Homo sapiens: one gene and its partner. The protein of the gene in region 1 purifies or fractionates together with the protein of each later gene. This does not show direct contact. Each region holds a gene or a part of one and is shown in the gene's direction. Other genes may lie near its edges.

Region 1 (3,823 bases):
TAACCTCTTTTTTCTTACCCAGCCATTAGAAAGAGAACAAAGGTATGTCTGTCCCCTGCCTAGTTCACAGAAACATGGTGCAACCTACATAAAAACTGCATGTGCTCCTTTAAGTTGTGAGTGTGTGGAGGTCAAGATATTATAGGGAAGTGGTTGAGGTCAAGTGTATTCAAAGGAGAGGAGGTCTAGTCTCTGCCACTTTCTTGAGTGGTAATCTTGGGCAGGTCATTTGTTTCTTCCTCAGTTGATCCCCCGTTTTAAAAAGATAATATTTCCAGTTTCCTTCACAGAGATGTTATGGAGATAAAATAAGCTAATGGTGGTTTAAAAATTACTTTCATGGCTACACAGTGTGCTCAGATATGAGGTCCCAACACAGAGTTTCATCTGGCATTGGTGGAAAATGAAGCCTGGGGTCTCTGCTCCTTCCTAGTTGTTTGTGTGACTTTGGACAAGCCTCTTGATCTCTTTGAGCCTCAGTTTCCCCATTTGTGCCATGAGGTGACTGCCACCCTGATCACCTTTCAGAGAGGTTGTAAGATTAAAGTGAGACCCTGGATGAAAAGAGATTTTGTGATCTTAGAAAGTTTCTATTATTCCAAGCTACCAGGATTTTTACACACAAAAGCCATAGCCAGTGATTTTTCCCACTAGATCATTGAAGCTTACTCTTTTTTAAGGAGCAAAACTATAAAAGAAATGTTTAAAAACTATTTTTGGATGGGAATCTTTCTGAAACGAATGATATGCTTCTGAGCAAAATATTAATATACAGCTCAGAAAGAACCTCTGGTTTGGGACTAGGGGTTGTTGAGTTCATACCGGTGTGTACAGAGCGCCTGCTTGGTGAGAGTGGGACCACAAAAGGTTCTTTCTCTCAAAAGTGTTACCTCCCAAAGAAGAGACCTGGGGTGGGGGAGGGACCTAGTGGTGGGCAGAGGGAAATTGCTGGGGGAGAGCCCACTCCGGGAGTGCCCTGCCTCAAGGTTCCAAGTAGCAACACTGGCACTGCAGGAAGGCTCTTAAATCCTGTTCAAGGCTCTGAGTGGGAAGAGCCAGTCCTACCCGGTCAGTTACTGTGCTTATAGTAGTGTGAGGCCACGGGGCTTGTGAGACTCTAGGGCAGTGGGCCCCAAACTACGTGGTTCCCAGCTGTTGGGCTTTGGGGGTTCATGTTTCCACCTACAATCATTGCTGTGTCTTCTGCCTGGTAGACAGTAGTCACTTCTCTTTTTTTTCTTTCCTTTTTCTTTTTTTTTAAGTGGTTACCTAGATATGACATAAAATTTACTTGTATGTAACAGCAAATTTTTCAGTCTATAGTTTTGTAGCATGAGTACATTCTTTGTATTTATTGTTGTACAACCATCCCAGTACCCATCTCCAGAACTTTTTCATTTTCCCCAACTGAAACTCTTTTACCCATTAAGCACTATCCATTTCTTCATCCCCCCAACCACTGGCAACTGATATTCTGCTTTCTCTTTTATGAGTTTGACTACTCTGGATACCTCATATGAGTGGAATCATGTAGTATTTCTCCTTTTGTGGCTGGCTTGTTTCACTTAGCATAATGTTGTCAAGGTTCCATGGTGTAGCATGTGTCAGAATGTCCTTCCTTTTTAAGGCTGAGTAATATTCCATTGTATGTATATACCACATTTTGCTTATTCATTCCTCCATTGATGGACCCCTGGGTTGCTTCCACCTTTTGGCTATTGTAAATAATACTGCTGTGAACATGGGTGTGCAAACCAGGAGCAAAAGGTGAATGCTCTCTGAGTCTCTGCTTTCAGTTATTTTGTGTATATACCCAGAGGTGGAATTTCTGGATCAAAAGGTAATTCTATTTTTACTTTTTTGAATAACCCCCCATAACACTTTCCTCAGCAGCTGCACCATTTTATATTCTCACCAACAGGGTGCAAGAGTTCCTGTTTCTCTACATCTTCACCAACAGTTGTTATTTTCTGCTTTTTGTTGATTAGGTTTGGATTGGTTTTATAATAGCCATCCTAATGAGTGTGAAGTGGTTTATCATGTAGTGATCATTTATGCTGGGCTCAAAGAGCAGTCCCTCCAAATCTCTGGGAAAACAGACATCTGAGTGTGTTAGAATTGTGCATAGAGGCTGGGCATGGTGGCCTACACCTATAATCCCAGCACTTTGGGAGACCAAGGCAGGAGGATTGCTTGAGGCCAGGAGTTCAAGAAAAACCCGGGCCACATAGTGAGACCTCGTCTCTATTAAAAAAAAAAAAAAATTGGCCTGGGCACGGTGGCTCATGCCTGTAATCCCAGCACTTTGGGAGGCTGAGCCGGGCAGATCACGAGGTCAGGAGTTTGAGACCAGCCTGATCAACATGGTGAAACCCCGTCTCTACTAAAAATACAAAAAAAATTAGCCGGGCATGGTGGCACGTGCCTGTAATCCCAGCTACTCAGGAGGCTGAGGCAGGAGAATCGCTTGAACCTGGGAGGCGGAGGTTGCAGTGAGCCAAGATTGCACCACTGCACTCAAGCCTAACGACAGAGCAAGACTCCGTCTCAAAAAAAAAAAAAAAAAAAAAAAAAAGAGAGGAACCTGGCAGGAAAGGGGCTGGAACACCTTCTGCAAGGTGTGGGGAGGGAGACTGAAGGGACAGGGATGACTCCTCGTTTGTATGTTTTTCCTCTGGAAGTCTTGGGACAAGGAGCAAAGGGTGAATGGTGCCTAGGCAGCCAGTCACTAACCAAGTAGCCTGAATCTTAGTTTCCAGCCTGCGCACTTGGAGTTTTGTTGTTTTTAAAGGCTCAGAGAGATGTAATTAGCAGCAGCTCACCTTTGCAGGGTGTTTGCCATGTACTAGGAGCATCACGTGCAGTATTTGGGTTAATTCTCACAACCACCCTATGGGTGGATTCTGTTATCACCTTTTCACAGATGAAGAAGCTGAGCCTTAGAAAGGTAATGTCTGCTGCCTAAGGTCACACAGCTTGTAAACTGCAGAGCTGGGACTGGAACCCAGGTGTCTGATCTCAGAGCCCACGCTTTGGGCCAGTGTGTAGTTTGTCCTCATGAGAATGGGAAGAAGAGAACGCTTTTTTGTTTTGTTTTGTTTTTTAATGAGTTTATTATTGAGCACCTTCAGGCACCACTTTGCTGGATCCCTTCACAAACATCATCTCATTTGATTCTCCCTATTTTACCTATGGGAACATGCCTACCTATTTTACATATGGGAAAGCTGATGGCCAGGAAAATGAATGGATTGCCAGTGGTTATGATGCTAAGAGACAGAGCTGGAACTCAGCCTGAGGATGTTGATTCATTCCAGTGCTCACAGCTCGTTCCATTGTGCTGTGAGCCCTGACCAGCTCCCACCCCACCCCCATGGAAAGAAGCTGGTAGGTCAGCTGTGAAGTCTGCAAAACTCCAAGGACTATAGCCACTGCTTTCCTTTCACATTGCTGTCCCTTCTTCCTTTAATTTCCCCACCCCCAGACCACCACCTCCACACCTAGAAGCCATGTGAGTCCATCATCTTGGATCAAAGTGCTTGGCACATAGTAGGTGCTCAATAAATATGCGTTGAATGTTGTTTGAGGGCTCGGTGTGCTAGAGGCAATAGAATCTCAGCCAAGATTGTGTTCCTAAAGAGAAACACAAGTAGAATGCAAATATTGTTGTTTCCTCCTCCTTCTCCCAGAGCAAACCTCCGCTTTCCAACACCCAGATGCCAGGGACTTGAAGAAAAGATTGTCCTTGCTCTGCAAACTTTGAATTATTCCCAAATTCCCAAAGGAAAAGAGGCACAGAGAGTCATGTTAGCAAAGTGCTTGC
Region 2 (3,823 bases), on another chromosome or scaffold:
AACCAAAAAACTCTAATATTGCAACTTATTTATCCATTGGGAGTTGAAACATTGCTAAATTTAAAAAAGTCACCCCAAAATAAAATAATGTAATGGAAAGAAAGATCTTATTTATGGTAGGTCTGTAGAAATTATAATAATACACTCTTTTTTTCAGGACTGGATTCCTCCCTTTCTCTCCAGTCAAGAAAGCAGTCACTTTTTGCCCGACTAGAAAATATTATTGTCACAGATGTTGATCCAAAGACAGTTCATAAGAAAGTAGGTGATTGTAAACAGATAGTTAATATTCTTTAATGACTGAATATGAGCTTCTATTGTAAAATGTATTTTATTTTAAAAACATTAATGAAATATATTTCAATAGAAAAATTTTTTTATAAAGATTATAAATGTAAAGCCTTTTGTAAATGAGATTTTATTTTGTCATTACCTTCCCGGATAGAGTACATTCAAGTCTCTGTTTTTCAGGCTGTGTCAATAATGGGAAATGAAGTTTTCCGTTTTAATTTGGATTTGTATCCAGATGCTACTGAGGGGGATTTGTATACTGACATGTCCAAAGTGGATGGTGTGCTGTCTCTGAATGTTGGCTGTATTCAGATTGTCTATCTTCATAAATTCCTTATGTCACTTCTGGTAAAATAATTATTTGTATATTGATTTTTCAACTTTGAAATATTTTAAAAGTGTGATAATTATGATGGCAAATGTTATAAACCTTGGATTTTAGAGTGGGCATTATTTTAATTATATTTATGCGTGAATGTAGAGATCAAAACCCCTATTTAACAGTTGAAAAGTGAATCATTTAATGATTTTTGTCTAGAACAAATTATTTTTGCTACAATATAATGAAGCCAGATTCTTTAGTATAAAAATTATTGGAAAAAAATTTTTCTCTGTTCCTTAACCATATAACATTAGCTCAGTTCAGGCAGCTCATAGTTATAGATGGATTATCCGTAATTTCTTAATACTGCTAGAAAAATAGGGCTCAATGGAAAGTTAAATATTGGAAAAAAAAAGTTACCACATGTATGAAAAGAAGATAGTGTTATTATTGATGTGCCTGTATTCTCTTTGAATTTCTCTTTTTATGCTTTGTGTCCACAGAACTTCCTGAATAATTTCCAGACAGCCAAAGAGTCTCTGAGTGCTGCCACTGCCCAGGCTGCAGAAAGGGCTGCCACAAGTGTGAAAGATCTTGCCCAGAGGAGTTTTCGTGTTTCCATCAATATTGATTTGAAAGCACCGGTTATAGTCATCCCACAGTCTTCTATTTCCACCAATGCAGTAGTGGTAGATCTTGGGTTAATCAGAGTTCATAATCAGTTCAGTCTGGTGTCTGATGAAGACTACTTAAATCCTCCAGTAATTGATAGAATGGATGTGCAGCTAACAAAGCTTACACTTTATAGGTATGCTCTTTCAATAATTATGGATTTAAATATTATATTCATGATTTCCATGAAATTTTATGACTTGAAATTCCTACCCAACACAGTTTATTCAAATAAACTGTTCCATTACACGGAACAGTTTTTTTTATTGTTGTCATTGTTTTGTGTGTGTGTGTGTGTGTGTGTGTGTGTGTGTGTGTGTGTGTGTGTGTTTTGAGTTGGAGTCTTGGTCTGTCACCCAGGATGGAGTGCAGTGGCGTGATCTCGGCTCACTGCAACCTCTGCCTCCTGGGTTCAAGCAATCCTCCTGCCTCAGCCTCCCGAGTAGCTGGGACTATAGACATGTGCTACCATGCCTGGCTAATTTTTTTTGTATTTTTAATAGAAATGGGGTTTCACCATGTTGGCCAGGCTGGTCTCAAACTCCTCACCTCAGGTGATCCACCTGCTTTGGACCCCCAAAGTGCTGGGATTACAGGTGTGAGCCACCGCGCCTGGCCCAGAAGAGTTTTTTATTTTGTGTTTTGAGATGAAGTCTTGCTCTGTCGCCCAGGCTGGAGTGCAATGGTGCAGTCTTGGCTCACTGCAACTTCTGCATCCTGGATTCAAGTGATTCTCCTGCCTCAGCCTCCTGAGTAACTGGGACTATAGGCACGTGCCATCATGCCTGGCTAATTTTTTTGTATTTTTCGTTATAGAGATGGGGTTTCACCATGTTGGCCAGGCTAGTCTCAAACTCCTGATATCAGGTGTTCTGCCCATCTTGGCCTCCCAAAGTGCTGAGATTACAGGCATGAGCCATCGCACCAGGCCACCAGAACAGTTTTTTAATCAACTTTTGTTTTAAAAAATTTCAGACCTACAGAAAAATGGAAAAAAATAGTACTGTGAATGCACCTACATATCCTTCATCTAGATTCACCAGTTGTTTATATTTGCTTTAACCTATCTATAAACATATACATATTATTTAAAACATTTTTTGCTAAATCATTTGAGAATAGACATCTTTAACTTTTTGTCCCTAAATACTTTATCATATGTCTCCTATAAACAAGGACATTCATTCTCTTATATTAACTATGATATAATTCTAGAAATTTAATATCGATGTAATACTATAATCTGAAATTCAGTCAATATTCAGATTTTACCAGTTGTCCCATTATAATAATTCGCATTATAGGAATGTCCATTATAAAAATTTCTCCCTGATTCAGGATCACCCATAGCGTATAATTGTATTCTGTACTATTGAGGAAGATTTCTGTACTGACAGAAATTTATTTTGGAGTAGTTCTTCAGCTTTTCTTTGTCTTTTTATGACTACATGACTACTACTGTAGTTTTGAAGACTACAGTCCGGTTCCACTCACCTCTCAATTTGGTTGTGTCTGAGTGATTCCTCATGGTTTGATTGAACTTACACATTTTTGGCAGGCATGTTGTGTAAATTATTTTGTATCTTCAGTGCTCATACCAGGTGGCACATGAAATCTGTACATAATTCATTTTAAAATTATTTTCTACCCCATCCATGAAGATTTAATTATGTAGAATAAAAAATTAATGACTACAAGGCAAGTCTAGAAAATAATCCTAGAGAAAACCTTTATGAAATGCCTTGGAAAATGCTAACTCCTCTTGTTCACTTTGCCATCATTTTCTTCAGTCTCTGCACCAACATACCTATTAATCCTTGAACAACTGTATATGATGATTTTCTGTATTTCTTCAATGGTGTGGATTGCTTTTAAAAACTTATTCAATTTTTCACCTATCTACTGTTTAAAGAAAAAAGTTTTCTTAATGGTTCATTGTATATCACCTTTTAATTTGTCCCTTCTAGTGGATTATAGATTAATTATAGGTTCAGTTTTGAAAATACTCAAGCCACACTGTTTCAGATCAGTATTTAGAGCAGCAAATAACTGCTTGACTTTGCTTTTTTTTAATATGTTGCATTTCTACCCTATATCTATGCATTATGTAACATTTCTGTTTTTCGTAGGACAGTGATCCAGCCAGGCATCTACCATCCTGATATTCAGCTGTTGCACCCAATTAACTTGGAATTTCTTGTAAATCGGAATCTAGCTGCATCTTGGTACCACAAGGTGCCTGTTGTGGAAATTAAAGGACATCTTGATTCAATGAATGTAAGTATATGAGTGAAGAAAAAACTTCATTGTTGAAATTTTAAACTCCAAAGACTTTTAGCAGAAATCCAAATGAAATGTAGACTCTTTTGCTGAATAGTATAAGAGAAATTTCAGTGAGACTTTGTCCAACAAGATCATTATTATTTTCAGTAGAATTTAATCTTTAGTTAAGATTTCTTAACTTTAAAATTTATTATACATACATATTGGTAGAGATCTGTATATAAATTATGTATTAGCATATTATACTATATCTCA

Evidence for each region.
Region 2: the proteins of UBTD1 (region 1) and VPS13C purify together in Homo sapiens (affinity purification with mass spectrometry; one large-scale study listed by BioGRID and IntAct). This does not show direct contact.

Annotation. Positions count from the first base shown.
Region 1 is NC_000010.11:97,505,226-97,509,048, forward strand, and holds part of UBTD1 (ubiquitin domain-containing protein 1), read left to right. Parts: intron 1-3,823. UniProt on the Homo sapiens protein: May be involved in the regulation of cellular senescence through a positive feedback loop with TP53. Is a TP53 downstream target gene that increases the stability of TP53 protein by promoting the ubiquitination and degradation of MDM2.
Region 2 is NC_000015.10:61,959,187-61,963,009, reverse strand, and holds part of VPS13C (intermembrane lipid transfer protein VPS13C), read left to right. Parts: intron 1-157; coding exon 158-261; intron 262-471; coding exon 472-639; intron 640-1,116; coding exon 1,117-1,421; intron 1,422-3,414; coding exon 3,415-3,562; intron 3,563-3,823. UniProt on the Homo sapiens protein: Mediates the transfer of lipids between membranes at organelle contact sites. Necessary for proper mitochondrial function and maintenance of mitochondrial transmembrane potential.